4 linked regions of the Homo sapiens genome follow. The protein of the gene in region 1 purifies or fractionates together with the protein of each later gene. This does not show direct contact. Each region holds a gene or a part of one and is shown in the gene's direction. Other genes may lie near its edges.

Region 1 (7,616 bases):
GTTAGCAAAATAGATAGGATCCCAGCTCTAGGAAGCACACATTCTAAAGGATAGAACCTACAACACCTGCTTCTTTAAAAGCATACTAACTAGAGGACAATTTATTATTGTAATGTCATGAGCACTTGCTTGTTAAAAAATTCCTTTTTTGAGATGGAGTCTAGCTCTATCACCCAGGCTGGAGCGCAGTGGCGCAATCTCAGCTCACTGAAACCTCTAGCTCCCGGGTTCAAGCGATTTCTCCTGCCTCAGCCTCCTGAGTAGCTGGGATTACAGGCACCTGCCACCACGCCCAGCTAATTTTCGTATTTTTAGTAGAGACAGGGTTTCACTGTGTTGGCCAGGCTGGTCTTGAACTCCTGACCTCGTGATCGCCCGCCTCAGCCTCCCAAAGTGCTAGAATTATAAGCGTGAGTCACTGCACCTGGCCAAAAAATTCCTCTTAATAACTTCTTAGAAGGCTAATACACAAAATAGCCACCTTTTCTGAATCCAACCAAACAAAATAACTTATTAACCACAGATTTTCCTACTGCTTTGTATTTTCTGAGGAAAAGAAACAGGTGCCAGGAAAGCTAAAAGGGATGTCTTTTGTAAGACTCTCAGGCCCTCCTACAGGGTCAATTTAGGTAGGCCTGCCCCAGTCTTCTAATTCTACATGCAAGATACATATGTATTACTTTTTCAAACAACACTGCTTCCTAAATAGAGGAGAACCTATGAAATGAGACCTGTGATTCTTTTTTAAAAACCTAGATGCATTTGGATAGAGGAAGGTGGGCCTGTGAACTCTAGCCCTGTAAGCAGGAAGGAAAGTTAAATAGTTCCTCATAATACAATTTAAAGATATCGGGTGGCAATTGTAAAGGAAAGAAAGAAGAGGGGAAGAAGGCCAAAGAGCCAACCAGATTACAAGAGCCTGGAGTCCTCCTTTCTTTGATGGTGGCCAAAATATATTTTAAGGATAGAAATGCCTAATATTCAATGTCAACACTTCTGATATCGCTCCACTGTGAACCCCTTCACCCTCCCCTTCCTCTAAATCTCTCATAAAGCTTACCATACTCATAAAGCCTTTCTGTGAACTCTTTTTCTTTTCTATTCTTTCCTAGCTCCTGTGAGACACAACTATCCAACAACTGCATCATGGATCTCTCAACCATCCATTTAGCACCTCCTTAGATTAGTCCAAAACTGAACTTATCTTCCCTTCTACACCTCTACCATCAATTGTTTTTAACTGCTCCTTCTCATATCCTCCAACATTCCACTAGCTCATTAATGTCATCATCTAAAGGAACAACTAATATTTACTGAGCACTTGGAATGTGCTAGGTACCCTGCCAAAGGCATTACATGCATAATTCCTCAAACCCTACTCAACAGGTACGACAATCATTTCCCAAATGTTAGGAAATCAAAGTTCTGTCAGGATAGTTATTCTAAGGGTAAGTAATAGAATTAGAATTTGACCCGTTTTAATTTCACAGCCAGCTTACCCAGTACATGTCAATCAATGCCTGAAGTCAAACAACCCAGGATTCATCCTTCCCTCCTTAAGCCTACCCAGTCACTTACCTAGTCCAGCCTCCTAGTCATACCTCTTAAACACCACGTCATTTCTCCTTCCACTGCCAGCACACTAGCATTTACTAAGTCCTTACTATCTGGCAATCACTATTCTAAGTAATAGACATGTTTTTTCAAGTTCTATCCCCCAAACTCTGAGATGACAAACCTAAGGAACAAAGAGGTTTCAGTGTATGACAGAGCCTGATTCCACCCCAGGTAATCTGAATAGAGAATCCCTGAGCACTTAACCCCTCCATTAGAACAGCCTCCAACTTAGTCTCCATATCGCCCATCTGGAAGCCCACCATCCTCCAGACGCTGCAGATATCTTTCTGGAATGCTTACCCGTTATCATGACATTCTCCTGCTTAAAATTAGCAGCTCAGTATCACTGACTGGATAAAGTCCAAATTTCTTAATCTGGTATAAAAAATCCTTCATTTTTCTGTTCAAGTCAATTCAGTAAATATTTTAGTGCCCAATGTAAGCAAGAAAAGGTGCCAAGTGTTCTGAAATGAATAATACATGTCCCTGACTACTACCTCCACCTCGGACACTGGGTCCTTCGGCCAGACAAGCCCATATGCAAAGCTCGTAATACAACAGCCCAAAGACACATACATTTATTTTTAAGTGGCCTGCGTGCTACGTGCCTACAATGTACGAAATCCCAAACCAATCTGAAGACTAAGTGCCTACGTAACACCTATTCTTACAGGTCTCCAGGCAGAAATGCTCCCTAAGTTCAAATTACTTCAGGGTAACTAGTGGGATAAAGGCATGGATCAGTTTCCAAATGAGAAAACTGGGCAAGAAGCAACCCCCGCCATCAATGGCTGGCATGCAGTAGGTACTTTATCAGTGGCTAAATGAATAAATAATGAAAAAATTTCAAAGTTGATGAGAGAAACAAGATATATGGAGAATGTAACACACAAGTGGGCCGAATTAAAAGTGATGTTATTCTACTTTGGTTCTCATTTGGCCTACTTTTACCCCATGGGAAAACTCACATGTGGGACTCGGACAAGCTAAAAAGCCAAAACTTTGTTATTCATGGCTCAACAAAGCTTTGACAAGCCAAAAAGGATACCAGATTCCCGCTTCCTTCTTTACCTGCCAAAGTCCATTTTCTAAAGAGGTGTGGGGGTGGGAATCAAATCTAGCAAAGTAAATAAAATTGATCTACTGAGATCCAACTTCATTAGTGCTGCATCGAAGTACATGCAAAAGAAATATCAAAACCTGTCCTGGGAAGAAGGCCAATTTACAAGTAAGTACTATTGCCGCAAGAATGTGAAATTCTTAAAGGCAGTTCCAATAAGCTGGAGCTCACAAGTGTTCCTCCTCCTGCACCGCCACCGCTTTTCACTCAACTTTGTTTCTGATTTCTGTGATTTTAAAAAGCATAATATACACAGCAAAGCCCATGCATAAGTGTACTTTAGCTCCTGGTACAAACGAACGTCTGGATTCATAAACTTAACGTAAACTGAAATACTAAAAGAAACACTACATGAGTCAAAAGTCCTTGTTTAAAACGTGGCATACAGCTTTGAAAAGCGAGTGATGTATTTCCTGAATGATGCTTTGTGTGCAACTGCTTCCAAATCAAGATTCATATTTTTAAATTACCCCCTGGAAGATGTCAAATCTCTCTCCCACCCTCTCCAGCCTAAAGAGAAAGGTGAGAATTCACAGGCAACAGGCTGGGGCGGAGGGAATGATCTCTCCCCATCCCTTTCCAGAGAACAAAACCCGATAAAGGCAGCTAGTGCCACTCTCATTGCCGACACCACACACACACAGAGGAAATTTAAACACTCACCCCACCTCTCCCTTCCCTTAAGAAGCAAACGACGCCAAGCTCTGCACCACGGTGGCCGGAACCAGCAAACGCTAACAGCCGGAGGCCGCCCGCCTCCCGGGCGCCTGCAGGCGGCGGGCACCGGGCGCCGACTCTCCCTCCTGGACCAGACCCACACCCGAGTCCACGCCAGCCCCGCAGCCCGGGCGAGCGAAGACAGCCGCGAAGGACCAAGGCTCCGGGGCGAGCTGTGGCGCCGCTCCGGCCGCCTCCCGGGGCGCGGCGCTGACCCACACCCAGCTGACGCCCGCACCTGAGGCGGCTGCCCGCAGCCAGCGAGAGGGCGCGCAGCGAGGCGGGCAGGGCAAAGTTACTCACTGGGAAAGCGCGGCTGCCCGGGCCGCGCACGGGCTCCTGGCGCCGCTGCTCGGCACCAGCTCCCGCTCTCCGCGGCCCGCTGAGGGAGCGGAGAGCCTGCCCGGCTCCGCTCCGCCAGGAATCGCCGCCGCCGCCGCCGCCGCCGCGGATTTCCTGGCAAAAAGCAAACTCCGGCCAAGACTTCACTTCTCAACCGCCCCTGCTGCCTTCCCGGGGGCAGCGCCAAGGCCGAGCGGCCCAACCCGCACCCGGGCCAATCGGAGGTAGCACAGGGCGGGAGGTGGGCGGACCAGAGGGCGGCTCCACCTATCCGAGAGCTCGGGAGGCGGGCCAGAAGGGACCCGTCACTCCCGGGTTAGAGTGAGACCACTCCGCCCTCGCCGCCCGCCTCCCCCACTCGCCCCGGGCTGTCCCCGCCGCCCGCCTGATTCCCCTGCGGAAGCCCCGCTGGCTAGGTGTCTGCGCGCACCCCCGGCCGCCGCCAAGAGTGGCACAGCTGGGGAAGGAGTGAACATCCAGAGGAATCGCGGGGCGGGGTGGGGGGAGGCCAGGAGAACAGGTGGCGCAGGGAAGCAGAAACGTAGTTGCGCTGGACAGCTGGAGTCGGGCAGGGTCGGGGCCAGCGGCGAGGGGACAAGAAGGGCCGATTCGAGAGGAAGCGCACCTGAGGGAGCACAGCGAAGGCCGGGACGCAGGGAGCTGGATGGAGAGCGAGCCTGGGCGGCGAAAGGTTGCCGAGGCGGGGGCTGGGCGCCTGGGAACAAAGGTGAGGGCGGGTTCCGCAGGTGAGGAGGTTTGAGGAGCCACTGGGGAGAAAGGGAAAAGGAAGTCTACAGCCGGAGAGGACGCGCTCTGGGGGTAGAAGGAATCCTAGGACGGAAAGGATAAGGTGGGAAACAGTTTTCTCCCAAACTCTCACTCCCCCAAAAGAGACATTTCTTTCTTGCCCTATTTTGACCCAGTTGAAAATGCAACTGCAAGCTCCCCGGTGAAACAAATACCGCCTTCAACCTTCGTATTCTGTGGTGACTCATCTCGCACGTGACCCCCCTCCCTCTTCAAGGTGTGTTGACCGACTACAGTTTAAGCCTGTCGTCCCACAAAAGGCCCGGGAGGGCCGGGGTCCCAGGAAGGGCCATCCTGGGTCAACACCGCCCCAGTTGGGAAGTCGGGCCGCTTTCGGACTTGCCACTGGGAAGGGAAGTGATTTGGGGGCGGCAGGTAAGGCCGCGCCCCTTCGCCATCACCTGGGGAAAGGTACCAGAGTTGAGCCGGGGCGCCCGCAGGCCTGTCTGGGCCTCGGGGTAAGGCGGCGCTGGCCCCGCCCCCTGCCCCTCCCGCCGCGAGTGGCCTCGCGTGGTCGCCCAGGTGAGCCGCGGGGCCGCGAGCCACCGCTCACCCCGCGTCGGGGCGGGGGCTGGGGGTGGAGCCTCATGCCCCGCCCCGCGGCTGGGCCCTGCCGCGCCGCTGCGGCTCCTCCTCCCTCCTTCCGTCCTCCGCGCCTTCCGTCGGTCGGTCCTTGCTTCCTGCTTCGCCTCCGCGCCTCGCGCTATGGGACAGAGCCCCCGATCCGCCAGCACCACCTGAGGATCCAGAAACCGCCCCAGCGATGGAAGAGGATCAGGAGCTGGAGAGGTAACGGCCGAGGAGGAGGCGGGCGGAGCGGGCCGCGCCCAAGGGGAGCGGGTGGCCGAGGGGCACGCTGCCTGGCCTGGCAGCCGGGGCCTGACTCGGGGCGCAGAGAAGAAGCATGGAGAGAGAAGTGGGGAGGAGACATGAATGTGTTTCAGTTGAGAGGCTGAGAGGTACACTAGCTATCAAGGAGGGAAGACAAGTTGGGAGACCAGAGTTAAGTATCCGAACTGCCCACCCCCGTTACAACAGCAGTGTGTAAAAATCACGCCCCGGGCCTCTGCTCCTGAGGACGGTACTCGTGCCTCTGTCCCTGTAACTACGGCTCACCTTCTTTCTATGTGCAGACTGCTCCTAAAGCCACTCTGTGCGCTGAGCTCTTTTTCTCCCTGCTGCTTGACTCCTGAACCTTCCATTCTCCTAGTTTCCTTCTCTTGCAAAATGGAAGCCGTAGTTGGGCCTGCACATTGATCATCTGTATCCTCTATTTTTATACTAGAGCAATCGGGATTTCTATGCCTTTCAACCCTCTCTTCATCCTCTAGCAGGACCAGTCCTATTCTAATCCTATCCCTTGCTTGTGACTCTACCAAAAAATATTTTTGCAAACACTTAAGTTTGTGTTTTTCTAAGAAAACTCCCCTTGTGGCCAGTGTGGATGGTCAAATGGAGCAGGGAAAAACTGGAGGCAATAAATTAAATATTTATTGATAGAGTTTGTGGAGGCAGGAAAATGAGAGGCGAATAATTCTGTGTAGCTGGAGTAGATTAATAATAATGTGTTGCAATGTGATATAGTAAATGAGAAAAAGCTAGTTACAAAACAATATTCAGTATGATCTCATTTTTATAAAAAATATGTGTGTAGAAAAATATCTGGATTGAAGACCTCAATGGCTGAAGGCGAGAGGAAGACAGCCCTGGAAATGGTCCAGGCAGCTGGAACAGATAGACACTGTGTGACATTTGTATTGCACGAGGAAGACCATACCCTAGGAAATTCTCTACGTTACATGATCATGAAGAACCCGGAAGTGGAATTTTGTGGTTACACTACGACCCATCCTTCAGAGAGCAAAATTAATTTACGCATTCAGACTCGAGGTACCCTTCCAGCTGTTGAGCCATTTCAGAGAGGCCTGAATGAGCTCATGAATGTCTGCCAACATGTGCTTGACAAGTTTGAGGCCAGCATAAAGGACTATAAGGATCAAAAAGCAAGCAGAAATGAATCCACATTCTAGTCCTTTATGCAGTATACAAGGAGAACTGTCCTGTAGGATATTCTCTTCCTGATGGTGCAGAACCCAGAATTAGAAGTTTGTGGTTACAGCATACTCTGTCCTTCAGAAAGGCGTGATTCTAGCTGTTGACCCCTTGCAGCTGTTGGAATCTCTGCAAGAACCTCTGTATTCTTCTAATAAATTCCCTCTTTTATTTAAACTAGTTTGACTGGTTTCTGTTCCATGCAACCAAATGGTCCTTGAGGATGACTTTTTTTCTAATTAAGCCAGCATTGAAAATGAGGAAACTGAGAATATCAGAGGCCTAGACAAGAACTGTGATCATGGGAATTAAAAGAAGTATATATCCATGTCTGTAGTTGGAGTGGTGGGGGTAAGGGAAGAGACAAAAACCATGACCCCAGTTAGATTGTTGTTTAAAAACAGAAGGAAAGAAGATTGGGGTGGGGACTTGGCTTCTTGCTAAACTTTTTGGCTTTTAAAGAATTGCATCATTTGCTGTGATTGGTAGACTTGGCAAGGGTGGGAATAATTTGGAAGAAGTGTGAGAATTCTGGTTTTACATGAGAGTTTTAGGGAGTAAGGCTCCATCTTTGAGGCATTTACAGGAAAGATACCAGTTTACTGCTTGAATTTTGGGATATACTTAGTCATGATCTAAGTAAGGTAAGATGTTTTGATTATATTACAGAAGGAGAAAATTGGGATGACTAGAAAACATTTTCAGTCCTTAAGTAGGTATAGCCTAGGGTAATGTAGAAGAAGCCCTATTTGAGAGAAGGTAAAGCCAAGGAGAAGGAAAATTCCATATAGGGGAAATGACTGTTTTGGAAAACACATATCCCACCCGCCAGTGCTCTGTGCTTTGGGCCCTTGTTTATCTATCCCCTCTTCCTGGGCCAGTCTTACTCCTGCCGTACTCTTAAGTCAAAGCTTATGTGTCAGGCCTCTCAGCCTAGTTTGGGTACTTCTTTGTGCTTTCA
Region 2 (8,343 bases), on another chromosome or scaffold:
TTAAAATCAAGGTGTTGGTAGGGCTGCAGTCCTTTTTTTTTGAGTCAGAGTCTCGCTCTGTTGCCCAGCCTGGAGTGCACGATCTTGGCTCACTGCAACCTACCCCTCCTGGGTTCAAGCAATTCTCCTACCTCAGCCTCCCAAGTTGCTGGGATTACAGGCGCCTGCCACCACACCCAGCTAATTTTTTAAATTTTTAGTAGAGACAGTGTTTCACCATGTTGGCTAGGCTGATCTCAAACTCCTGACCTCAAGTAATCCGCCTGCCTTGGGCTCCCAAAGTGATGGGATTACCGGTGTGAGCCGTGGCACCCAGCTGGGCTGCAGTCCTTTCTGGAAGCTTCACAGGAGAATCTGTTTTCTTGCCTTTTCCAGCTTCTACAGTTACCTACATTCCTTGGCTCATGGCCCCTTCCTCCATCTTCAAAGGCAGGAATATTGCATCTCTCAGATCATTCTTCCCTTCCCTAGCCACACCTCCCTTGGGCTCTGACATCAGGTGAGAATGATTTTATGCTTTTAATGATCCATGTGATTATGTTGATACCACATAGAAAATCCAGGATAATCTTTTCTTCTTAAGGTCCATACCCTTAATTGTCATGGTGATCAGCGACTATCCAGGACCAGAGGTGCAGACAGTAAAAAGAATGTTTACTCGGCTCACTGCAACCTCCGCTTCCCGGGCTCAAGTGGTTCTCCTACCTCAGTCTCCTGAGTAGCTGGGATTACAGGCGCCTGCCACCATGCCCGGCTAATTTTTGTATTTTCAGTAGAGATGAGGTTTCACCATGTTGGCCAGGCTGGTCTTGAACTCTTGGACTCAAGTGATCCACCCGCCTTGGCCTCCCGAAATGATGGGATGACAGGCATGAGCCACCGCACCTGGCCTACCGGGTATCATTCGAACACCCAGCTAACTCCCTACTCTAAGTCACACCTGAGCCATTTTATCATGGGGGCTGTCAGAGGCACTGCTGTTTTTCACTGAAGCCCATACCCAATCCCTCGGCCTCGTGTGCTTTTCCCTCACCCACTTCAAAGGCCCGTGGCTTTGGGACGCCTCTCCACCTCATTAGTCATTCCCTCCCCTGCCCATCGCGTCGAAACACAATGCATTGTGGTTATTTATGTCCAGAGCTGGTTCCTCAACTAGGCTGTCAGCTAGCCAGTGCAGAGGGTGTGTGTTAGTCACATTTGTATCATCAGCCCCCGATGGGCCATGGCTACATACTTGTTGAGTGAATAACACAAGGGGCATCTTTAGCATTTCTTTGTGGGGCCCAATCTCCTCAGCGAAGGTACAGGGAATTCTCCACACTAACTAGGCCAGCTGGGTCTGGGTGGCATTTTATGACTTTTTTGTTGTCGTTATTTTGCGATGGAGTCTTGCTCTGTCACCCAGGCTGGAGTGCAGTGGCGTGATCTGCAACCTCCGCCTCCCAGATTCAGACGATGCTCCTGCCTCAGCCTCCTGAGTAGCTACGATTACAGGCACGAGCCATCAAGCTGGTTAATTTCTATTTTTTTGGTAAAGATGAGGTTTCACCATGTTGCCCATGCTGGTCTCAAACTGGGCTCAAGCGATCCACCTGCCTTCATCTTCCAAAGTGCTGGGATTACAGGTGTGGACCACCACACTCAGCAGAGTAAAAAATGTTTAACAGCTTTATTAATATAGGATTAATATGCTGTACAATATGCCATTTAAAGTATACAACTCAGTGTCTTCAGTATATTCACAGGGTTGTGCAACCACCACCACCATCTATAATAATTTTAGACAATTTCTGTTTCCCAAAGAGAAACTCCCTACTTATTAGCAATCACTTCCCATCCTTGCCCCCAACCTAGCCTTCTGTCTGTATCCATAGATTGGCCTCTTCTTGGACATTCTATATAAAGTGAATCATACCATATGTATTCTTTTTTTTTTTTTTCTAGAAGGAGTCTCATTCTGTCACCCAGGCTGGAGTGCAGTGGCGTGATCTCGGCTCACTGCAACCTCCGCCTCCTGGGTTCAAGCAATTTTCCTGCCTCAGTCTCCCGAGTAGCTGGGATTACAGGTGCCCCCCACCACACCCAGCTACTTTTTGTATTTTTAGTAGAGACGGGGTTTCACCATGTTGGCTAGGCTGGTCTCGAACTACTGACCTCATGATCTGCCTGCCTCAGTCTCCTAAAGTGCTGGGATTACAGGCGTGAGCCACCACGCCTGGCGATTTTTGTATTTTCGGTAGAGACAGGGTTTCCCCATGTTAGCCAGGCTGGTCTTGAACTCCTGATCTCAGATGATCCACCCACCTCAGCCACCCAAAGTGCTGGGATTACAGGCGTGAGCCACCTGGCCAGGCAATATATATTATTTTGTGTCTGGCTTCTTTCACTTATTAATAGCATCATGTTTTGGGAGGTTATCCATCTTGCAGCATTTATCTATCAGTCTGTCTATATATATTTTTTGCAACAAGGTCTCTCACTCTGTAGGCTGGAGTGCAGTGGTGTGATCATAGTTCCCTGCAGCCTCTACCTTCTGGCTCAAGCGATTCTCCTACCTCAGCCTCCCCAGTAGCTGGGACTAGAGGTGCTCACCACCACACCTGGCTAACTTTTCGTAGTTAGGGGGTCTAGCTATGTTGCCCAGGCTGCTCTGGAACTCCTTGTCTCAAGAAATCCTCCTGCCTCTGCTCCCCAAAGTGCTGAGATCAAGCCTGGCCTCCTTTTTATTTTTATATTTTTGAGACAGAGTCTTGCCCTGTCTTCCAGGCTGGAGTGCAGTGGCACGATCTTGGCTCACTGCAAGCTCTGCCTTCTGGGTTCACGCCATTCTCCTGCCTCAGCCTCCCTAGTAGCTGGGACTACAGGCGCCCACCACCACGCCCGGCTAATTTTTTTTGTATTTTTAGTAGAGACGGGGTTTCACCCTGTTAGCCAGGATGGTCTCGATCTCCTGACATCGTGATCTGCCCGCCTCGGCCTCCCAAAGTGCTGGGATTACAGGCGTGAGCCACCGTGCCCGGCCAGCCTCCTTTTTAAGTAGTTTTCCATTGCACAAATGTAGCACATTTTATTCATCCACTCATCAGTCTCTAGTTAATGCATCTGTTGTATATGTTCAGATTGGCTGGGGTTCAATACCCACTGGACAACTTCCTAGATGAGTGACTTTTGGTAAATCATAATCTCTCCAAGTCTGCCTCAGTTTCTTCAATTATAAAATGTCAATAATAATGCAATGTACCTCATAGAGAGTCATGGTTGTATTGCCACAGTAATTAATAAAGTGCCAGGAACTTTATAAGGATTATTTAACACCCTTATTATTTACAAAGTAGGCAACAGAGGCTATTGTGGTGGTTCACACCTGTAATCCCAGCACTTTGGGAGTTGGAGGTGGGAGGATCACTTGAGGCGAGGAGTTCAAGACCAGCCTGGGCAACACAGTGAGACCCCCATCTCTACAAAAAAATTAAAAAATTTTGTAGCTGACTCTTTGGACAATAAAGAATTTTATTTTAGAAAATTAGCCAGGTGGCTGGGTGCAGTGGCTCACGCCTGTAATCCCAACACTTTGGGAGGCTGATGAGGGTGGATCACAAGGTCAGGAGTTCAAGACCAGCTTGGCCAAGATGGTGAAACCCCGTCTCTACTAAAAAAATACAAAAATTAGCTGGGCATTATGGCGGGCACCTGTAATCCTAGCTACTGGGGAGGCTGAGGCAGGGAACTGCTTGAATCCAGGAGGCAGAGGTTGCAATGAGCCGAGATCACGACACTGCACTCCAGCCTGGGCAACAGAGTGAGACTGATCTCAAAAAAAAAAAAAAAGAAAAAGAAAAAGAAAAAAAGAAAATTAGCCAGGTGTAGCGGAGCGCACCTGTGGTCCCAGCTACTCTGGCAGGCTGGGGTGGGAGGATTGCTTGAGCCCAGGAGTTCAAGGCTGCAGTGAGCTCTGATTGCACCACTGCATTCCAGCCTGGGCGACAGAGCAAGACCCTGTCTCTTAAAAAATAAATAAATAAACTGCAATGTTTCTGGCAGCCCAGATGCCACCAGCCTCACTACTCTCTGAGAGGTGGGATTTTAACATGCAAAGGCCCACTAACCCGATCACGTCTCACAACTTCAGCTGATTAATACTTTGTTAAAACCTAGACCACGAAAACAGACAGAGCCCGGCGAGGTGGCTCACGCCTGTAATCCCAACACTTTGGGAGGCCGAAGCGGGTGGATCACGAGGTCAGGAGTTCAAGACTAGCCTGGCCAAGATGATGAAACCCCGTCTCTACTAAAAAATACACAAATTAGCTAGGCGTTATGGCGGGCGCCTGTAATCCCAGCTACTCGGGAGGCTGAGGCAGGGAATTGCTTGAACCTGGGAGGCAGAGATTGCAGTGAGCCGAGATCGTGCCACTGCACTCCAGCCTGGGTGACAGAGCGAGACTCTGTCTCAAAAAAGAAAAAAAGAGGCTGGGCACGGTGCCTCACGCCTGTAATCCCAGGACTTTGGGAGGCCGAGGCGGGCGGATCACGAGGTCAGGAGATTGAAACCATCCTGGCTAACACGGTGAAACCCCGTCTCTACTAAAAACACAAAAAATTAGCCGGGCTTGGTGGCAAGCGCCTGTAGTCCCAGCTACTTGGGAGGCTGAGGCAGAAGGAGAATCGCTTGAACCCAGGAGGCGGAGGTTGCAGTAAGCCGAGATCCAGCCTGGGCGACAGAGCGAGACTCCGTCTCAAAAAAAAAAAAAGGTTAAAGAAAAAAAGAAAAGAAAACACAAGATAATCCTGTCCGCAAACGCTTAGCAGTCTTAAATCGGCCTGGTGGAAGGATGCAGGGACACTCCCCCACCCTGCCCCCCGAAAAAGGGGAACGCGCAGCGCGAGGTTCCGGGTCCGCCAAGCTCCCGGCATGCAGCGCGGCGATCCCGGCGAGCACCTTGGCGCGCGGAGCTGGCACCTTGGCGCTGTTGGTGGCGGCGGAGACAGCTGTGAAGTGTGAGGTTCTTTGTCTGCTGGCAGCTAGGGGCGACGAGGCGGGACGTCATGGAAGTGTAAGTCTTCTCGGGCGCGTCCCTTTTCGCCCGAGGAGCCCAACGGTTTGACCGCTGAGAGCTGAGAGCCGAGAGCCGTGGGGACTGGGCGACCCTCGTACGGGAGTGAGGGCAGCGGGCCGGCCCTGTCCGGGAGGGCCGCGGGGTGGTGACGGGGACGAACGGGACTCTCGCTTTGCCCTTCCGAACCTTCGCTTCCCCTCCACGCCGTGTCTGGTGCGGGGCCGAGCACTTCCGTGTCCGGCTGCCTTTCAATGTGCCCCCTCCTTCTCTCATTCGTTTACCAGCGTTTCTGGGTCACAGTGCGGGGGTGGAGCCCAGTCTGGTATCCGACCCCGGACTTAGAAGGCTATAAAGGCCTGAGTCTGTCCGCCCTGAAAGTAGGTGGAGGAGAGACGAATCAGGGCCGGGTAGAGCTCTGCTTGCAGCTGTAGGCCCCTGGAGAGCCCTCGGAAGAGCTGCCCTCGGAATTTGATGGGAGCAGTAAACACTGTGAGGGAAGGGGCTGGTTTTGGGGTGGAGAAGGGAAGGACGTGAACCAGGACTGGGACCAGAGAAACAGCAGGGGGTGTGTGGGTGTGTGTGCAAGGCGAGGGTAAAAGATTTTCTGACAGTTTAACTCCACGTGGTCTTTTCCATGCTTGCTCGTTGCGCCTGGTGCAAATGGAAGATTTTGCATCTACTCTGAATGTGGGCTTTATACGGTTGATATTAATTTGTAGGTATTACTATCTTGTGTTCTCTTTGAACTGATTATTTGATACAGTTTCCTTTATGTTCTTTTGCCTCATGTTTAATGGTTATATGTACTATGGCATTTCACATTTTTACATTTTTAATTAATTGTTTTTTCTTAAGAAACAGGGTCTTGCTCTGTCCCCCAGGCGGGGTGTAATCATGGTTCACTGCAGCCTCACTTTCTGGACTCAAGCAATCCTGCTTCAGCCTCTTCAGTAGCTGGGACTACAGGCCCACGCCATCACTCACCGCTAATTTTTTAAAAAAAGTTTTGTAGATGCAGGGTCTCACTACAGCCCAGGCTGGTCTCCAGCTCCTGAGCTCAAGTGATCCTCCTGCTTTGTACTCCCAAAGTCCTGGGATTGCAGGCGTGAGCCACTTCACCTGGCCTCTTCCGATTTTTTTTTAAACACAATATGTCTGTGTAACTGAAATGAAAGGCTCATGAAACAATAATGTGTGGCGTACACTCTCATATTGTCTATTTTTTATTAATATGAATGGGGCCAACCGTGGTGGCTCACACCAGCAATCCCAGCACTTTGGGAAGCTTAGGCAGAAGGATCACTTGAACCTGGGAGGTGGAGACCAGCCTGGGCAACATAGGGAGACCCTGTCTCTGCAAAAAATTAAGAAGTTAGCTGGGTGTGGTGGTTCATGCCTGTAGTCTCAGCTACTTACGAGGCTGAGATGGGAGGATCACTTGATCCCAGGAGGCTGCAATGAGCTGAGATAGAGCCACTACACTCCTGCCAGAGTGACAGTGTAAGGCTCTGTCTTAAAAAAAAAAAAAAAAAAAAATTGAACCACTGAATTAATTTTGCAACCCACTGATGGGATTTCATCTGCAACCTAAAAAACTATTCATATAATTTACTCTAGTCCAAGCCATCATTACTAATTTTTCCCTCTTTACTAGAGCATTTCCTGTGAGCATACAACCCTGCTTTAGAGAATTCATCTTAGAAAATCCTCCGTCCCCACATACATGTCCCCCTCTTACTCCATTTCTGCTTCCCATCCCAACAAAACTTCTTGAAAGTGCTGATTAGCCCCTCATTCTCTCAGCCATTCTGTTGGGCTTTCATCCTCACTGGTCTACGGGAATGACTGTTAAGATTACCTGAACCAGCGGGGCGTGGTGGCTCATGCCTATAATCGCAGCACTTTAGGAGGCCGAAGTGGGCGAATCCCCTGAGGTCAGGAGTTTGAGACCAGCCTGGCCAACATGGCATAACCTCCTCTCTACTAAAAATACAAAAATTAACTGGGTGTAGTGGTGGGCGCCTGTAATCCCAGTAACTCAGGAGGCTGAGGCAGGAGAATCGCTTGAACTCGGGAGGCAGGGGTTGCAGTGAACCAAATTGTGCCACTGCACTCCAGCCTAGGTGACAGGGCAAGACTGTCTCAAAAAAAAAAAAAAAAAAAACCTGATCCCTCCATCTTGTCAAATTCAGAGGTTGATTTTCTGGCCTCAACTTTCTTGATCTCTCAGCAGTGGTTAATACAGAAACTCTAGAAACTTTCCTTTTCTTGTGATGTATGTTCCTTTGCGTATTTCCTCCTACATCAAGGACTACTTCAGTGTCCTTCCCTGGGTCCCGTTCCTCTCTTGCTTGATGTCTAAGTGTTGAGTGGTATCTTAGGGCTCAGTCCTGGGACCCTTTCTCTCCACACTCTGTCATTTCACCCATCTATGTGCTGATGGTTCTCAAAGGTATGTTTCTAACCTTCTTCTCATCATCTATCCAATTGCATAGACCAAAAATCTAGCCCTCTCTCTTCACTCCCTAAATCCAGTCCATCAGTGGTCCTGTTGTTTCCACCCTAGAATATATTTTGAATGCAGTTACTTTTCACCATCTCCAATGTTAGCTTTGTAGTCCATCACCTCTGGGCTGGATTAAGCAATAGCCTTTGAGTGTTCACTCTTCCCCAGCCTCCATTCTGTTCTCCACATGGCAACTGGAGTGATCTTAAGTAATGATTGGAACATGTCGCTCCTGGGTAAAACCCTTCATTGACTTTCCATTGTACTTAGAGAAAATCTCCATCTCTTACCAGGACCTGCAAGACCCTGTAAAACCTCACCTACTCCCCAGCCTTACCACTTGCCACTCTCCCAACCTCCCAGACACACACTTTCCACTGACAGGTATTTCCTTCTCCTCTAACCTTCTAAGCACTTCCTGAGGACCATTGCGTTGTGGTACCCTCTGTCTGGTATACTTTCCTCCTCGCCCTCGTCCTGTTCTCTTCTTTTTATTGTTCTTTTTTTAGTTCGCTTTTGAGATGGAGTCTTGCTCTGTCACCCAGGCTGTAGTACAGTGGCGCAATGTCAGCTCACTGCAACCTGTGCCTCCAGGGTTCAAGATTCTCCTGCCTCAGCCTACCAAGTAGCTGGGATTACAGGCGTGTGCCACCACGCCCAGCTAATTTATGTATTTTTAGTAGAGACGGGGTTTCCATGTTGGCCAGACTGGTCTTGAATTCCTGACCTCAGGTGATTTGCCTGCCTCAGCCTCCCAAAGTGCTGGGATTACAGGCGTGA
Region 3 (7,868 bases), on another chromosome or scaffold:
ACTTTGGGAGGCTGAGGCAGGCGGATCACTTGAGGTTGAGGAGTTCACCTGGCCAACATGGTGAAACCCCATCTCTATTAAAAATACAAAAATTAGCTGAGTGTGGTGGTGCAAGTCTGTAATTCCAGCTACTCGGGTGGCTGAGGCACAAGAATCAGTTGAACCCAGGAGGCAGAGGTTGCAGTGAGTCGAGATTGTAACACTGCACTCCAGCCTGGGTGATGGAGTGAGACTCTGTTATTTAAAAAAAGGCGGGGGGGGAGGAGAGGGGAGGGAAGGAGAGGGGAGGAAATTTGGCAAAGGAAGATAGGAAAAAATAGCTAAATGCATAAAACTTCATTTTAATTTTTTCAGCATACATTTTCTAAGCTGTTTACATCCTTCCTTACCAAGCTTTTTCATGCTGCCTTATAAAAGAGCACTTTTTCAATATTTTAACTTACATTTGTTTACCTTGTAGTGCCAGCTTGTGACTTAAGAAAGTTGTTATCAAGAAAATAGGGCTTTTTAGAAAGATTATGCCTTAGTAAGTAAAGGGAATCATTGGAGACCATAGTACAGCAAAATGGGATAATAGAAGTAGAATGCAACTTATAGATATTCTCCTTGTGTTATTTTATATGTGTGTATATATATGTAACGCCCTTTTTAAGGAAGCTGAAAATACTAATAGGGGAATCAAAGTTTGAGCGTGTGCTGCACACAGGCAAGCCCTATCATTTGCTTGCCTGTTGCTTATTGGCAAAATGGTTAGTCAGCCATTCATTATTTTTATAAACATTTGGGAATCTGATAGCATTTTGAAGTTTTATGATATAGAATAGTTTATAAATTCTATTTTAACATTTTAACTTACACACCCATAGTCAGTGCTGCTAAAAATGCACGTACATGTATACTCTCACAAGTTCTTTAAAAGGCCTTTAGAGAAAACTTTTTGATGTCATAAGCACTAAACATTTGCTAAACTATTTTGCTGTTCATCCATTCAGTGGTCAGTTGTAATGCCTGAGAATTATGTTCTGGGCCTGGTAGCACAATTTATAGCAGGATCCAGTCTCTTTCACCATTGTTTAGAGGTGCAGCCATTTATGCTTCCCTGCTGCATAATAATGCGTGTCTCAGGTTTCAGAAGACATGTTTGGCAGCCTGGTGGGACATTGCCTGAACCCTTGTCTCCAGCTGAGTAAGGTATACAATTGGAACTGAAATCTCAACATAAATTTTAAGTGATTTCATAAAAAAGGACAAACTTATTGTCAGTGAACTTTACCATAATCCCAGCAGTAGTAATCTTATTTCTAAAACAGTAAGTGATCTATTGCCAGGTATCCTGCCCAGTTTATTAGTTGGCACTAAAATAACATAAATCAATTGGCAATTTATAGTGCAACCTTGATAAAGTTCATGAGTTTCAGTTTGACTTGTTTTTCAGCTGAATCTTTTTAAGTTTTTAGAGATTTAAGCACATACTGTCATAAAAAGTATAATAGAATTCTTCAATTTAATTTGCTTGACATTTATTGAGCATCTATAATAAGCATGGCACTGCACTAGGTATTCCCTACATATGTACTATTTCTTTCAGTAGTAATTGTCAAGTAATTTTTGCTGCTTGAATGGTTTATTTTCTTTTTCTTTTCTTCTTTTTTTTTTTTTTTTGAGACAGGGTCTTGCTCTATTGCCCAGGCTGGAGTGTAGTGGTATGATCTTAGCTCACTGCAACCTCTACTTCCTGGGCTCAAGCGATTCTCATGCCTCAGCCACCCAAGTAGCTGGGACTACCATGCCCCGTTAATTTTTGCATTTTTAGTAGAGACATGGTTTTGTCATGTTGCCCAGTCTGGTCTTGAACTCCTAAGCTCAAGCAGTCCACCCACATCGACCTCGCAAAGTGCTGGGATTACAGGCATGAGCTACCACGCCCAGCCTGAATAGCTTATTTTCATCCCCAAAATGAAATCATCATTGATTTAATGACATGAGTATGGAGAAAAAGTTAAAGGAAATAAATACTGAGTTTTGGTGTCTGCATACCCTAGGGTGTAACTCTGTGAAATGGCACTTAGGTACTTCGGAGTGTGTGTGTGTGGTGTGTATGTGTCACTATGGAAGCGTGTGCAAGAGAGAGAGACTTAAAGCTGCCTTAGCTATTCACAGGGGGAGAAAAGAGATACCTAGGAGAAGTTAAAGAGGCTCAGTAGCCCACACTCAAGCTCAGCAGTAGAGCAAGCCTGAGTTTTCCAACTTTAACATCTCTTTGTAGCATCAGTTCTGTGTCCACAAGCCGAGGAGACTGAAAGACTCATCTTCAGGCAGGTGCATGAACCCCAGTGTGTTTATAAGGGGAAATGAGAGAAAGGGTTAACATTCTGATTTCATGTTCAGTTGACAGTGACCCAATAACACCCATCCGAGGAACAATCAGGTGGAAAGACTGATTGCTAAGGAGGGAAGAGCCCACCCCTGATTGGGCTGTACCCTAGATTTCTTAAGGAAGGGGCCAAGCCTTTTCTCATTTTATCTCCAGTTTTTGGCACAGAGTAGATGTTTATTAACTGCTTAATACATGAATCATCAAATAAATGCATAATCCACTCTTCCTTGCTCTCACTTGAATTCCTCTTTGTTCATTCTTTTTCTTCCCTTCTCTCCTGTATTCTTTTTCATTTAGAACTTTTGCAATTATTTCTTTTTATGGAATATACCTGTTTATCCATTTTATAAGCTCCTCGGATGTGAACACTGGGCGTTGTTCTTACATTACCTCTCCCCAGCAGGCCTGGAACACGGTAGAACCAAATAAAGAATTGTTGATTGTGAAATTAACCAGTGGAAACTAAATCCCTCAAATGGGATAATGTAAATCCAAAAAGTCTAAATTATTTAGATTAAAATATACTTTATATTTTTCCTTCTTTGTAGAACTTTAAATATTAGTGAGAAAAGTTGCTTTTGCAAGTTGTTAAGCCACCATGAGAGTATTGCTTTTGAAATGTTGAACCTGAAGATTTTGTTCATTTTAATTAGTGATGTTAATGTATTTATCTCTATATTCATTACTACCTTATTATTTCACATAATAGAATGTTGTATTTTGTTTTCTCCCATATCAATGCAGGTACTATAGGATACAACCAGCGAAACAGAATTGATACTCTCATGTATCTACTAGCATATCCACAAAAACCCATGGTTAAGACAAAAACCATTGAATTGATAGAATTTGAGAAACTGCCAGCTGGACAGAATGCAACAGTTGCTGTGATGAGCTATAGTGGCTATGATATTGAAGATGCTCTTGTTTTAAACAAGGCCTCTTTAGACAGAGGTAAGTGAATTTTCAAAACTAACACCAAAGTTGCTTTTTGCAGAATTAGATATAGGGATGATTAATGTAAAAATCACTTGGTTAATGTCAGTTTTAAGTTATTTGAATTTTATGATATAGAAACAGGAGGTGGTTGGGTTTTGATGTTGGCTTTCTTGTCATTTTTAATGACTAGTATATTGAAATAATTTGTTAAACATACTACTACAGAATATTTTTCTCCTTTATTATTTTATTGGTTACGTGAGACAATCCTTCAAAAAGAAAAAAAATGTAAGAATGTGTTTGTTTTCCAGCAGGAATTACAGTATATGAAATATGTGTTTTCACTGTGTCTAGTGATACATATTATTAACAACAAACCTGTTTGAGAGGGCAGTAGCAATATTTGGATGTAAAAGGCTGTTTCTTATTTGTGTAACCTCATAATTTGGTAACTTCTTTGGCCAAGTGACGAAAGTTAAAAATACACGGCCACAAACTCTGGCGTGGAGTTTTTCTGCTTTTCTTTCTGTTTTTGACAATACTTTCACAAGTCACCACCTCGTGGTTTGTTAGACATCACCTGATCTGAAGTCTGACTTCTCTATTCATAATCTCGATTTCTCTTTTTCCTTCCTGGCGTACCCACTATGCCTTCCCCTTCCCTCTTTGTAGTTGCTAGGCAGCCATAATAGTACTCCTAGACATGTGTCTTTGGCATTAATGTTGGCCACACTTAATTTATGCCTCTTTTTTTCCTCCAAATGACAACAGCCATGCTTTAAAACTAGATGTTTTCCTTTCTGATTAACTGGTAACGTTTATGTGGAAATCTGAAGACTTTGTGATGTCTGTCAGAAACTCTGCAACCCAATTCAGTGATCTGAGTTTACTATCCCCTAGCTTTTAAGCTATCACCTGTAAATAAAATGTCTGTTTACACTTTGAAGAAAACACTTCTTGATTTCATGCAGTTAAGATTCACATTGCACTCCAGCATGTTGCAGTTAATGGCTACTGTATGAAATTTCAAGATCATGTAATGTTTCCAAACCAGCTGGCATTCTGAGCCGAGTTTATTATGGCCATACACAATTTCCTAGGAGCCATGATGACTACGGCCTTGCTTAAAGACACAAATGTCTTCATCTGACGTCCAATTTTAGAAATTCGTTACTTCATCTCACAGTCACCTTCATATTTAAAAAATTACATTACAGCCCTGAGATTTTATTTATAAATCCACTTTTACCTGATTGATTTCTAAAGTCACATTCTTAGATTTCTGTTTTTGGTGGAAAATTGTTAAGTGAAGGATTTTACTGCCATGCATTTATTTCATCAGTAATAAGCGGCATTTAATCCTGAGACATTTCTTATTTAAGTGAACTCTGGCATGGCTCAGTATATCCTGAGGAGATTAGTAAGAGAATCCAGTTTAAAATAACTGCTTGGCCAAAGGGAAAAAAGAAAGAAATGCAGCCACAGAATCAGGAAATTATAGTGTTGAAGGAATGACAGCTGTTTTGGGTAACTCTACAACTCATGGATTTTTTCTTTTAGGGATTCAGTGGTTGAGTTTTTTTGCCCCACCCAAAGGTTTTTCTTCTGTCCTTTTTGCTTATTTTTCTTCCTTTTCTTTTCTGATCCATTGCTAGACAGCTTATTTTTCTTGATGTTTAGATTGTTAGTTGATTTCACAGCCTTTCCCTCATCCACTAGATAAATGCAATCTAAAAATGTAATTAAACTCCAATCTTTAGGGCAGAGGAGAACTATTTTTCCCATTGAAATAATTTGATTATTTCTTTTTTCATTCTGTCTCTTCTCTGGAGAAAAATTATTGTTTTTACTTGTTGGCTTAGAACTTGCTCTAAATGCCAAATTTTAAAAAGGAAAACTTTCCAGGGAAGTTTAGCAGAAGTTATGCACCAAAAGGATGTGTATCCTGGCTCAGGAGTCAGTGGACTTGTGCTGTTCAACACAATTCTCAACTCTGCTGCCAACTTTTTGGATGACCTTGGCCACTTAATTTCTCTAGACCTCACTCCTAGTGCCTGTAAAACAGATAGGTTAAGCAGGTGATTTCTAAGGGCCTTTCCAATTCTAATATTCTATGGCTCTGTCCTCTGAAAGAATCACAGCGCCAGTCTTAGATTTCTCTCACCGTTCTCCAGTATGACAAGGTGTATTCCATGCAGAAAATGGTTGTAGAGATTCCAGTGTTTACACAGACAGTAGGTAGGGGACAAGTCCTGTGCTGCTTCTTCAGATTATCAGATTTTTATTTGGTTTGTACTGGTCCCAGATTATTATCAAATACAGAGAAGTTTTGGGATTTGGGGGAGGGTGAGGTGGAGTGGATTGTTGAGTAGCACAAATCCATATTTCCTTATAGCTTTGGGTTACTGGTGGTTCTAATGCCCATCTTGGTTTCATTTTAGGCTTTGGGCGTTGCCTTGTATATAAAAATGCTAAATGTACGTTGAAACGATACACCAATCAGACTTTTGATAAAGTGATGGGGCCCATGTTGGATGCTGCTACAAGGAAACCTATCTGGCGACATGAAATCTTAGATGCAGATGGTATTTGTTCTCCAGGTAAAAGCCTTTTAAAAGAAAAAATTTTAATACTTTTTGACATCATATGTTATTCAATAATATTTCTGAATATTTGGCAAAAAGGGCAGAAAAAAGTAACAACCTATAAAACCACCATCCAAACTCAACCAATGAGGTCATTTTTGATGAATTTCCTTCCAGTCTGTTTTTCTATACACTATGTTTTTACCTATCAGTAATCTATGCTAACTATAATTTTCTAGTTATAATTTTGAATAATAGAAAAGCCACTTTAAGGAAATATTTAGAGTAGTTTATGTCCCTGCATCTGCACTGGTATTTCTTCATTTACACATTTAGCTTACAGACTACTTTAGAATTTTATCCCCCTGCAAAGGTATGACTCCATTATAATTACAAACTTGTAATGCATTTTGTTGATGAAACAAATAGCCCTTGCCCTTATGGGTCTCACAGGCTAGTGCAGGAGACTGACATTGATCAGAGGATCATGCATAAATCCAGGTTAAGGAATCATATAGGTAACTATGAGGCCATTTTATAGCAAGAGAATTTGACCTTGTTGGGAAGATCAGCATGGCTTTCCCGAGGAAGTGAGCTGGAATCTGAAGGATAGGGAAGAGTTAACTAAAGAAGAGGATCAGGGAGCATGTTCTAAGTAATGAGAAAAGCTTGTGCAAGGGTCCCAGAGCTTGGTAGTTGAAAGGTCTGAAAGAAGACCAGCGTGGCTAACAAGAAGAGAGTGCAGGGAAGCATGGTGCACATGAGTTGGTGGGTGACGCAAGGGGTAGGGGCCAGAGTAAGCAAGTCCTTGCAACCATGTTAGTATTGTCTTTATTTTATTTTATTAATTTTATTTTTGAGACAGGGTCTCAGTCTGTCACTGAGGCTGGAGTGCAGTGGCACAATCTCAGCTCACTGCAACCTCTGCCTCCCAGACTCAAGTGATTCTCCCACTTCAACCTCCTGTATAGCTGGGACCCATAGGCACGTGCCACCATGCCTGGATAGTTTTTTGTATTTTTTGTAGAGATGAGGTCTTACCATCTTGTCCAGGCTTGTCTTGAACTCCTGGGCTCAAGTTCTCCACCCACCTCGGCTTCCCAAAGTGCTTGAGCCACCATGCCGAGCCCATGATACTATTTTCATTATGATCCTAAAAGCAATGATATATTCAGATATGTGTTTTGAATGATCATTCTGACTACAGTGTAGAAAAAGGATTAGAAGGGCACTAAAATAGAAGGTAGACCTGGTACCAGGAGCTGTGGTGAAGGTGGAGAGAACCCAGTTTGTGAGGAGGGAAATCCACATGACTTTGTCATGGTTGGCCTGTGGGCGGTGAATGCTTTATCAAGCTGTGGTTCCAAAGAGACACAGAGTACGCGACTTCTCCTCCCTCCCTCTGCCTTTGTTTCTTGGAGAATTTTTCTCACCCTAACACTGGTCAGTATGGCTTGGAAAATACGCGCTGTGACAGTACTACAGGTAGTTGGTCTTTGAACTTACCAGGAAGAGATACAAAGCAAAAATGGGAATAACAGCATAACCAAAGAAATATTTTGATTTCCTTGTTGCCCAAGTTAAATTGGTGGTGGCTTATTACTGGTTGAAATAACTATAAATAAAAATAAGTGACCAAAACTTAACACCCTAAGAGATATATAAAATTGCTATTTACTGAGATGATGTTTCTCATGTTCATGTAGTACTCTGAATTATTTTCTTAATTTTATATAGACTATGATGTGTGTGTGTGTGTGTGGGTGTGTGAGTCTCACTCTGTTGCACAGGCTGGAGTGCAGTGGCATGACCATAGCTCACTGCAGCCTCAACCTAGGTTCAAGCAGTCCTCCTACCGCAGCCTCCTGAGTTGTTGGGACTGCAGGCCTGTGCATCTTTGCCTAGTTCGTAATCTTTGTATTCCACACAGATGATAACGATGTGCCTAACACTTTTCTTTTTTTCTC
Region 4 (7,868 bases), on another chromosome or scaffold:
TTTGTATATTAAGAGTTGTGCAACCATCACCACTATCTTTTTTTTTTAATTACATTATCACCATTTTGCAACTCCTTATGAAGACAGATCTCATCAATGATCATTAACTTTTTAGCTTCCCCCAAAGAGAGACAAACAAGCATTATATAGTTCCTGGTGGAAGAACTCAACACCGATTATGAGGCAGTTCTGTTGCTAAACGCTAGGAGTTGAATCTGTTAAAAATTCTAGATGCAAGTTCCAGTTTGGAGGAACTATAGGAATGGAGGAATACAGTGACTGGCACCACAGGCCTCCAGGGGTTATGGTAAGTAGGCAGATATGAGCAGGGCAGGAGAGGGCCCCCTCCCACCAGGAACAACACCCTCATCAGCTAAGCCATCACCACTATCTAATTCCACAATTTTTTTTTTTTTTTTTTTTTGACAGAGTTTCACTCTTGTTGCCCAGGCTGGAGTGCAATGGCGCAGTCTCAGCTCACTGTAACCTCTGCCTCCTGGTTTCAAGCAATTCTCATGCCTCAGCCTCCCAAGTAGCTGGGATTATAGGCACCCAATACCACGCCTGGCTAATTTTTGTATTTTTTTAGTAGAGACGGGGTTTCACTATGTCGGCCAGGATGGTCTTGAACTGCTGACCTCAGGTGATCCGCCCGCCTCGACCTCCCAAAGTGCTGGGATTACAGACTTGAGCCACCGTGCGCGGGGCCATTCCACAGCGTTTTTATCACCCTACAAAGAAACCCCGCCCAGTAGCAGTCACTGCTAATCCTGTCCTTCACCCAGCCTCTGGCAGCCACTTAACTGCTTTCTGTCTCTATGGATGTGGTTCTGGACACTGTACATGAATGGAGTCGCACACTGTGTGGCTTTTGTGTCTGGCTGCTTTCACTTGGCCCCATGTGAAGGTTCAGCCCGAGGTTGAGCCACACTGTAGTGCATGTCAGAATTCCTTCCTTTGTAAGGCTGCATAATATTCCATTGTGTGTCTCCAGCATGTTTTGTTTACTCATCCATCCATGGGGGACTCCGGGTGCCCAGCATTTGCTTTTGGATGTGGTTGTTCCAGCCTGGGGCTCCCTGGGCGCAGGATCATGTGCTGTCCCACCCCCGTGAGCCCAGTGCCCAGACTGGGCCTGGCACAAACCTGGTGCAGGCTCTGTGAAGTTTTTTTTTTTTTTGAGACGGAGTCTTGCTCTGTTGCCCAGGCTGGAGCGCAGTGGCATGATCTTGGCGTACTGCAACCTCCACCTCCTGGTTCAAGTGATTCTCCTGCCTCAGCCTCCTGAGTGGCTGGGATCATAGGCACCTGGTACCACACCCGGCTAATTTTTGTATTTTGGTAGAGACGGTGTTTTATCATGTTGGCCAGGCTGGTCTCAAACTCCTGACCTCAGGTGATCTGCCCACCTCGGCCTCCCAAAGTGCCGAGATTACAGACTTGAGCCACCCCGCCCGGCCTCTGTGAGGATTTATTAAACCAAACTGAATGTTGGGCCATGTGGGGGACAGGGTTTTTCCATCTGTGCGTAAGTGGCCCTTGGCCGCCCTCATCTGCTCTCTGGGAGGTCAGCACAAGGCCCAGTCATCTTCATGGTGGCTGTGATGGCTCACGTTTGTGTCTTCCCAGGGTGAGAGGTCCATCGGCTGCCTCTCCTCATGCCCTGCTGATGCCAGGGTCCCTGCCGTCCTGGGGGGCATGTTGGCCGACTAAATGGTTGACGGCATCGTGGAAGCCTGTGTTTGGGATTAAACCTGTCTGAGGAAGGCAAGATTCGACCCGGTGGCCCTGTCTGGTGGGTACAGAAAGACCAGGTGTCTCCCCATGGCTATGTGGCTGTGAGTGGGTCACCCTGGCTCTGAGCCACTGCCTTATCCTCACGGTGGGAACTCTGTTGGTAACCAGCAGGGGGCAGCCGCGTGCTGATTCTCAGGTCAGCGTTGGACTCCTACTTTGGGGCTTCGAGCAAGGGCCTGAGTGACAAGGTGACATACAGCTAATGCCAGGGCCTGGGGTCAGAGTGTGCGATGTGGGCACAGACCCCACCTGGTGTTTTCCTTGCAGTCAGGTGAGTGGGGACCACCTGCAGCATGGCCTGAGAACCCACAGAGGCATTTTTGCTGGGCTGCTGGCCTGCGCCTCACAACACCAGGGCATTTTTAGCCTCCTCTCCAGGTCAGAGCTGTGCCTGGGGCCGACTTTGCTGCTCAGCAGGAGGTGGGAGTTTCCAAACCCTGCGTTCTTTACCAGTTGCTTCTGCCCTTTTTAGGAGCTGAAGGAGAGCCTGGAGGGAGGTTGAAATTGACTTTGGAGCCACTGATGGCTCAGAATCTGGGCTCAGGTGTGAGTAACCTGGCAGTTTTGGGAGTGCCCAGTTACAGGACAGCTGCTGCTGCCCCCCTGTGGGGGCCATGCTGTGAACTTGCAGGAGACAAAGGGAGGGTCTAGGCTTGCAGGGGGATGTGGCATGGAGCAGCCACACAGGCCCCCAGGTGTGCTGGCACCTGAGGGTGACATGGGAGCGCACTGGGGCCCCGGTCAGCATCACTGATGGGCTGTCTTCATTTCCAGTCCATTTTCGCTGCGTGGTGTTTCATCCATTCCTAGATGAGATTCTCATTGGGAAGATCAAAGGCTGCAGCCCAGAAGGAGTGCACGGTAACAGTGGCCCTGACGCCTCAGACAAGACTTGGGAACACTGTGGGGGCAGGAGGTCTGTGTCCACCCACATGGTCAGGGGAGGGCTCAGGTGTCGAGGCCGAACCTTCCCCGTGGTGTCAGAGAAGCTTGCCCACCCTCCCTTTTATGTGTTGTGTGAGGACCTCCATCAGCAGTGCGGTTTCACTGTGAGGCCGTCACTCAGGACTTCAGGGTGGGCACTGAAGCTGGCGGAAGTGACTGGGAGTCTTTAGCGCCCACTGGCCCCTGTTGTGTGCAGAGGTTTTGGGGACTAGGTGCTCCGGGCTTTGCCCAGGGCTGCTCCGCTATGTGGGTGGTGTACGCAGAGGCATTAGGTGGGGAAGGGGCCTAGGTTTCCACAGCGACATCCGCCTCGTGGGCAGCCCCAGGCAGGGCTTGCCTGTCAAGCATAAGACCCCGCAGTGTTTGGCGTCCACTGGGACCCCCATCTCAGGCCGTCACCTGCTTCCTTCCTTCCAGTCTCTCTAGGCTTCTTCGATGACATTCTCATCCCCCCAGAGTCACTGCAGCAGCCAGCCAAGTTGTATCCTCCAAGGGTTAAAGTGGTTTGTCACAGGGAGCTCAGGCCTCTCCAAAGGAAGGTCCCCACTCCTTAGGGTGGCCTTTGGGGCCTGTAACCTGATGTCACTGGCCTCTGTGCCTGCCCCTCGCCTGTGCTTTTGCTCCAGAGGCACCAGCCTGTCTGTGCCTCCCATGCAGGGAGTCATGTGATGCCCACATGCCTGTCTTTGTCGGGGCCATCAGGCTTGGCTGTCTGGGTTGTACACTGCACACCATTAGAGCTGTGGTGTCCTGGGGGACACCATTCACTTCCGGTTCACTTCACTTAGGTTGTCCCTGCAGGAATCATCTTAAAGATCACTTGCCCTGGAGGCATGCACTGGTCCCTGGGACGTGAGGCCTTGCCTGTGTGCCGGGTCGTGGGCTAAGATGTGTTCCTCCTGGGCCTCCGTTGTCCCTGTCCCACCCCTCACCTTGCTGTACTGGGGTTGTCTGTTTCTGTGGGGCTATCCACAAATCTGAGGCTCCTCACTGGGAAGGACTCTGACATGTCACAGCTGTACCCACGGTGCACAGCACGGGACCTGGCACAGAGGCAGGACCCAACAGTGGGACTGCCACCAGAGAACCCATGGCTCCCCTGTGTGGGCTCTGCCAGGGACGATGGAGAGCCAAGGGGGACTGCCCTGGCTGGGTGGCAGCACGGCTCTGGGTCTGCATGTGACTCCAGGATGTGTTAGAAAACCTGGCGCAGCCCGGCTGGTTCTCTCACCACCTGTCATCCAAGTGGGCAGGTGACCTCCCATCCCACTATGTCCTCTTGAAAACGGCAAGTCCTTGGGTGCCCATCAGCCTGTCACAAGGCTTTGATGAAAAGGGTGTGTGGGGCTCCGTGGCAGGAGGCCCAGGTTGCTCTTGTCTTGAGAGGTGGGACTCGGACCCTGTCTCGTCCCCTCCTGCTCTGGTGCTCTGAGATCCATGTGCGTCTGGCCGTGGTGCCTGGCTGGGGACCCCATGTTCCCCTTCCTGGGTCCTGGCCTCCAAGAGCGCTTGTTCCTCTCTGTTTGGCCCAGGCCTTGTGCATGGGGCTGGGACCTGCTTTTCCTGTGACTTCCCAGCCACAGTGATCTCACCCTGAGATTGGTTTTTCCTGCGGGGTCGGGGAGTGGGTGCTGAGGGAAGCCCCTCCCACTATCTGGTTGCTGCCTTGACCCTGGACCCCCTCAGCGACGAAGCGGAGCAGGTGTGGGTGTGGGAGTACGAGACGGAGGAAGGAGCACACGACCTCTACATGGACACCGGCGAGGAGATCCGCTTCCGGGTGGTGGACGAGAGCTTTGTTGACACGTCCCCCACAGGGCCCAGCTCAGCAGATGCCACCACTTCCAGTGAGGAGCTGCCAAAGAAGGAGGCTCCGTACACGCTTGTGGTGAGTGGCTCTGATGGTGCTGAAGCCCCCATGAGGCGGGAGAGCCGGAGTGCAGGGCTGGAAGCTGTGTCCTGGGGCTTCTGCTCTGGGATCTCCCCCAGCAGGTCAGGGATCCTGTTTGGGGGGTCTTGGCTGGTCACTTCTCCCTGGAGAGCCTGAGTTTCTGTAGGCCAGGGCTGTGAGGCAGTAAAGGTACATGGCTGCTGGTGGGGTGGGCGAGTCAGCTTGCAAAGGGGACAGAGCTCACGGTGGACAAGACCACTGATAAAGCGGCTTTGAGGCCAAGTGCAGTGGCTCACATCTATAATCCCAGCACTTTGGGAGGCCAAAGTGGGAGGATCGTGTGAGGCCAGGAGTTTGAGACCAGCCTGGCTAAAAAAGTGAGAAGTTGTCTCTATAAAAAACAATTAGCAGGGCATGGTGGCGTGCCCTGTGGTCCCAGCTACTTGGGAGGCTGAGATGGGAGTATCCCTTAAGCCCAGGAGTTCAAGGTTGTGCCACTGCATTACAGCTTGGGCAACACAATGAAATGCTATCTTTAAAAAATTGGGGGGTAGGGAGGGGTTTGAGGGAGAAAGAAATCAAGGAAGGGGCTTGGGAGAGATCAAAGCCCTGAGATTAAGGGTAGGGCTGCTGGGGCACAGTGGCTCACGCCTGTAATCCCAGCACTTTGGGAGGCCAAGGTGGGCGGATCACGAGGTCAGGAGATTGAGACCATCCTGGCTAACACGGTGAAACCCCATCTCTACTAAAAATACAAAAAATTAGCCGGGTGTGGTGGCGGGCGCCTGTAGTCCCAGCTACTTGGGAGGCTGAGGCAGGAGAATGGTGTGAACCCGGGAGGTGGAGGTTGCAGTGAGCCAAGATCGTGCCACTCCACTCCAGCCCGGGTGACAGTGCGAGACTGTCTCAAAAAAAAAAAACAACAAAAAAAAGGTAGGGCTCCCTGTAGGAGCAGCATTGCAGCAGTGAAATAAAAGGGAGGGCTCCGGGGAAGAGTGGCTTTCAAGGCTGCTCCCTGTTGGATGCGTCTGGAGCATGGGCCTTGTGTTTGCTCAGCCTTCCTGCCACGATTAGAACCTAGGTGGCCCTGGAGGGCAGGCCTAAGGGTGAGGAAGGGTCCCTGACCCTATCAGGGCCTGGAGTCCCTGGAGAAGGGTCTGCGCCCTGCGTGCTGCGTGCCCGTTGGGAGCACTGCTGTGGCTCCCACATCTCTCCAGAGCCTCTTGGCTGCCGTGTGCCCCGCCTCTTCTTTGCCTGTGCTGGGCCTGCTGGGCTCCCTTCACCTCCTGTCCAGGTTGGTTCAAGCCAGCATGTCAGTGAAATGTGCGTGTTCTTTATCCCTGGCAGGGATCCATCAGTGAGCCAGGCCTGGGCCTTCTCTCCTGGTGGACCAGCAACTAGCCCTGGGGCTGGACAGTGGACCCTACCAGCCTGCGGGAAGGTGGTATGGCCGGCTGTGAAGACAACAGCAGCTGAGGCCGATGCTAAGGAGATAGTGTCTCGAGCTGGACAGTGAGGCAAGGCCAGGAGTGCCCACCAGCTTGCCCCGCTCCTCCACCATCTAGGCCCTGCTCCTCCTTCACTGCAGTGATGGATCCATCTGTGGCTGTGGCTGTTGGGCCTCCACTGACCTTGACTGAAAAGACCCTTCCTGGACCCTGGACTTGACAACAAACGGCACAGACACCAATCACTCACAGAACAGTCACTGGTTTTGGATTCTTGTTTTCCTTGCAAGAACAAAAGGTTCTCTAGAATCCTTCAGCCACCAATGAAATGATCAGGCAGGAGAAAAACTTTAGATGGGAGTCTTGTCATCAAAAATAAATACAGTTGCATGGAGCTGCTTAAGATCTGAACCAAACTCAAAATAGGAAGACGGGGGCTAAAAAGTTATTTTAAGAACCCCCCCACCACAACCACAGTCACTCCGTGGGCTAAGCGGGGAGCAGGAAGCATGTCTGGTCACACCATCTTGGAATAGGAAGCCATGGCTGGACGGATCGGATCCACTGATGGCACACGTGGAGCTGAACTTGACGCCAGCGGCGGGGCGGGGAGGCACTGCCCTCACTGTTGCAGTTCCTTCATTCTGTTGAGGGCACTGCCAGCGCGGAACCACTCAATCTGCGTCTCGTTGAAGGTGTGGTTCAGGAGGATGGTCTCCTGGGTCCCGTTGGGGTGCTTGATGATGCACTTCAGGGGCTGCAAGGAGAAGGTGGGTGTGGGTGGAAGTGGTGGGTACTGTGTGCCCTTGGCCCCGCAGGGGGGTCAGGGAGACAGGGCACTGCCTGGGGACCTAAGAGGTCAGCAGGCAAACCAAATCCTAGGCCAGTCTGTGCCTGATGGCCCAGGTCAGACCCAGGTGGCACCTACAGGGGATTCCTGGGGCCCAGAGGGTCCTGCAGTGGGTGGGCTGTCCCCTGAGTGCCAGGTCCTGGTGAGTAAAGGGAGGTTGGGGAGGTGTGAGGGCCCCGGGTTGACTCCAACCCCCAACTCTGAGAAGCCACTTTGCTTTCTCTGTGGGGCCACCTGGAGAACTGGGGGCCTTTCCAGCTGGAATGAAGCCTCCTGGGAGAAGCTACCCTGGGGCCAGTGCAGGAGGGGAAACAAGGTGGCTGCCCCTCACCCCACCACCTCAGGGGGACCCGGGCCCCTAACCTTGCCAGGGGTGAAGTCCTTCAGGCCCTGAATGGTCAGCTTGTCCACAGGGTGAATCTTGTTGTAGTCAGCCGGGTCAGCGAAGGTCAGAGGCAGCAGGCCCTGTTTCTTCAGGTTGGTCTCTGGAAAGCAGGCGGCATTCGGTCATCGGGGGCCTGACTAGCCTGGAGAGCTTCATTTTCTGAACCCATCTGGGGCTCTGGGAGATGCCCCTAATCCTGCTGCCTGGGACAATGCCCGGGCAGTGACTATGGGGCCCTGGTCTGCTCCCTTTCACTAGGGGTGCCCCTAGCAAGTGTGCGCTGGTGCTGAGGTCTGCGAGGCCTTCCTGCTGCACATTCATGATCAGAAAGAACCCCCTGGCACATGTCCTAGATCTCAGCGGCTCAGATCTACAAGCCTGGAAGCAGGGCCTGCGGGAAGCCGGGAAGCTGAGCGTCGGATGTGCACTGTGTGAGCCTAAGAAGGGGCAAGAGGCTGACGGGCCTGTGGGCTGCAGTGGACACAGCCTAGAACCAGGCCCAACTCAGCCACGGGCAGGGAGAGTGACCTTGATCACTAGGGATGGGATGAG

What was found.
Region 2: the proteins of POLR1D (region 1) and CRCP purify together in Homo sapiens (affinity purification with mass spectrometry; 5 studies listed by BioGRID and IntAct, with this or other methods). This does not show direct contact.
Region 3: the proteins of POLR1D (region 1) and POLR3B purify together in Homo sapiens (affinity purification with mass spectrometry; 6 studies listed by BioGRID and IntAct, with this or other methods). This does not show direct contact.
Region 4: the proteins of POLR1D (region 1) and POLR3H purify together in Homo sapiens (affinity purification with mass spectrometry; 6 studies listed by BioGRID and IntAct, with this or other methods). This does not show direct contact.

The regions. Positions count from the first base shown.
Region 1 is NC_000013.11:27,616,618-27,624,233, forward strand, and holds POLR1D (DNA-directed RNA polymerases I and III subunit RPAC2), read left to right. Parts: upstream 1-5,274; 5' UTR 5,275-5,366; coding exon 5,367-5,392; intron 5,393-6,257; coding exon 6,258-6,633; 3' UTR 6,634-6,832; downstream 6,833-7,616.
Region 2 is NC_000007.14:66,109,917-66,118,259, forward strand, and holds the start of CRCP (DNA-directed RNA polymerase III subunit RPC9), read left to right. Parts: upstream 1-4,998; 5' UTR 4,999-5,046; coding exon 5,047-5,054; intron 5,055-8,343. UniProt on the Homo sapiens protein: DNA-dependent RNA polymerase catalyzes the transcription of DNA into RNA using the four ribonucleoside triphosphates as substrates.
Region 3 is NC_000012.12:106,451,381-106,459,248, forward strand, and holds part of POLR3B (DNA-directed RNA polymerase III subunit RPC2), read left to right. Parts: intron 1-3,121; coding exon 3,122-3,331; intron 3,332-5,757; coding exon 5,758-5,916; intron 5,917-7,868. UniProt on the Homo sapiens protein: Catalytic core component of RNA polymerase III (Pol III), a DNA-dependent RNA polymerase which synthesizes small non-coding RNAs using the four ribonucleoside triphosphates as substrates.
Region 4 is NC_000022.11:41,527,449-41,535,316, reverse strand, and holds part of POLR3H (DNA-directed RNA polymerase III subunit RPC8), read left to right. Parts: intron 1-1,629; exon of another isoform or gene 1,630-2,343; intron 2,344-2,571; coding exon 2,572-2,658; coding exon of another isoform or gene 2,659-2,713; intron 2,714-3,159; coding exon 3,160-3,223; intron 3,224-4,428; coding exon 4,429-4,630; intron 4,631-5,980; coding exon 5,981-6,034; 3' UTR 6,035-6,703; coding exon of another isoform or gene 6,704-6,838; 3' UTR 6,839-7,294; coding exon of another isoform or gene 7,295-7,416; 3' UTR 7,417-7,868. Other genes in the region: ACO2 (aconitate hydratase, mitochondrial precursor), read right to left, coding at 6,704-6,838, 7,295-7,416.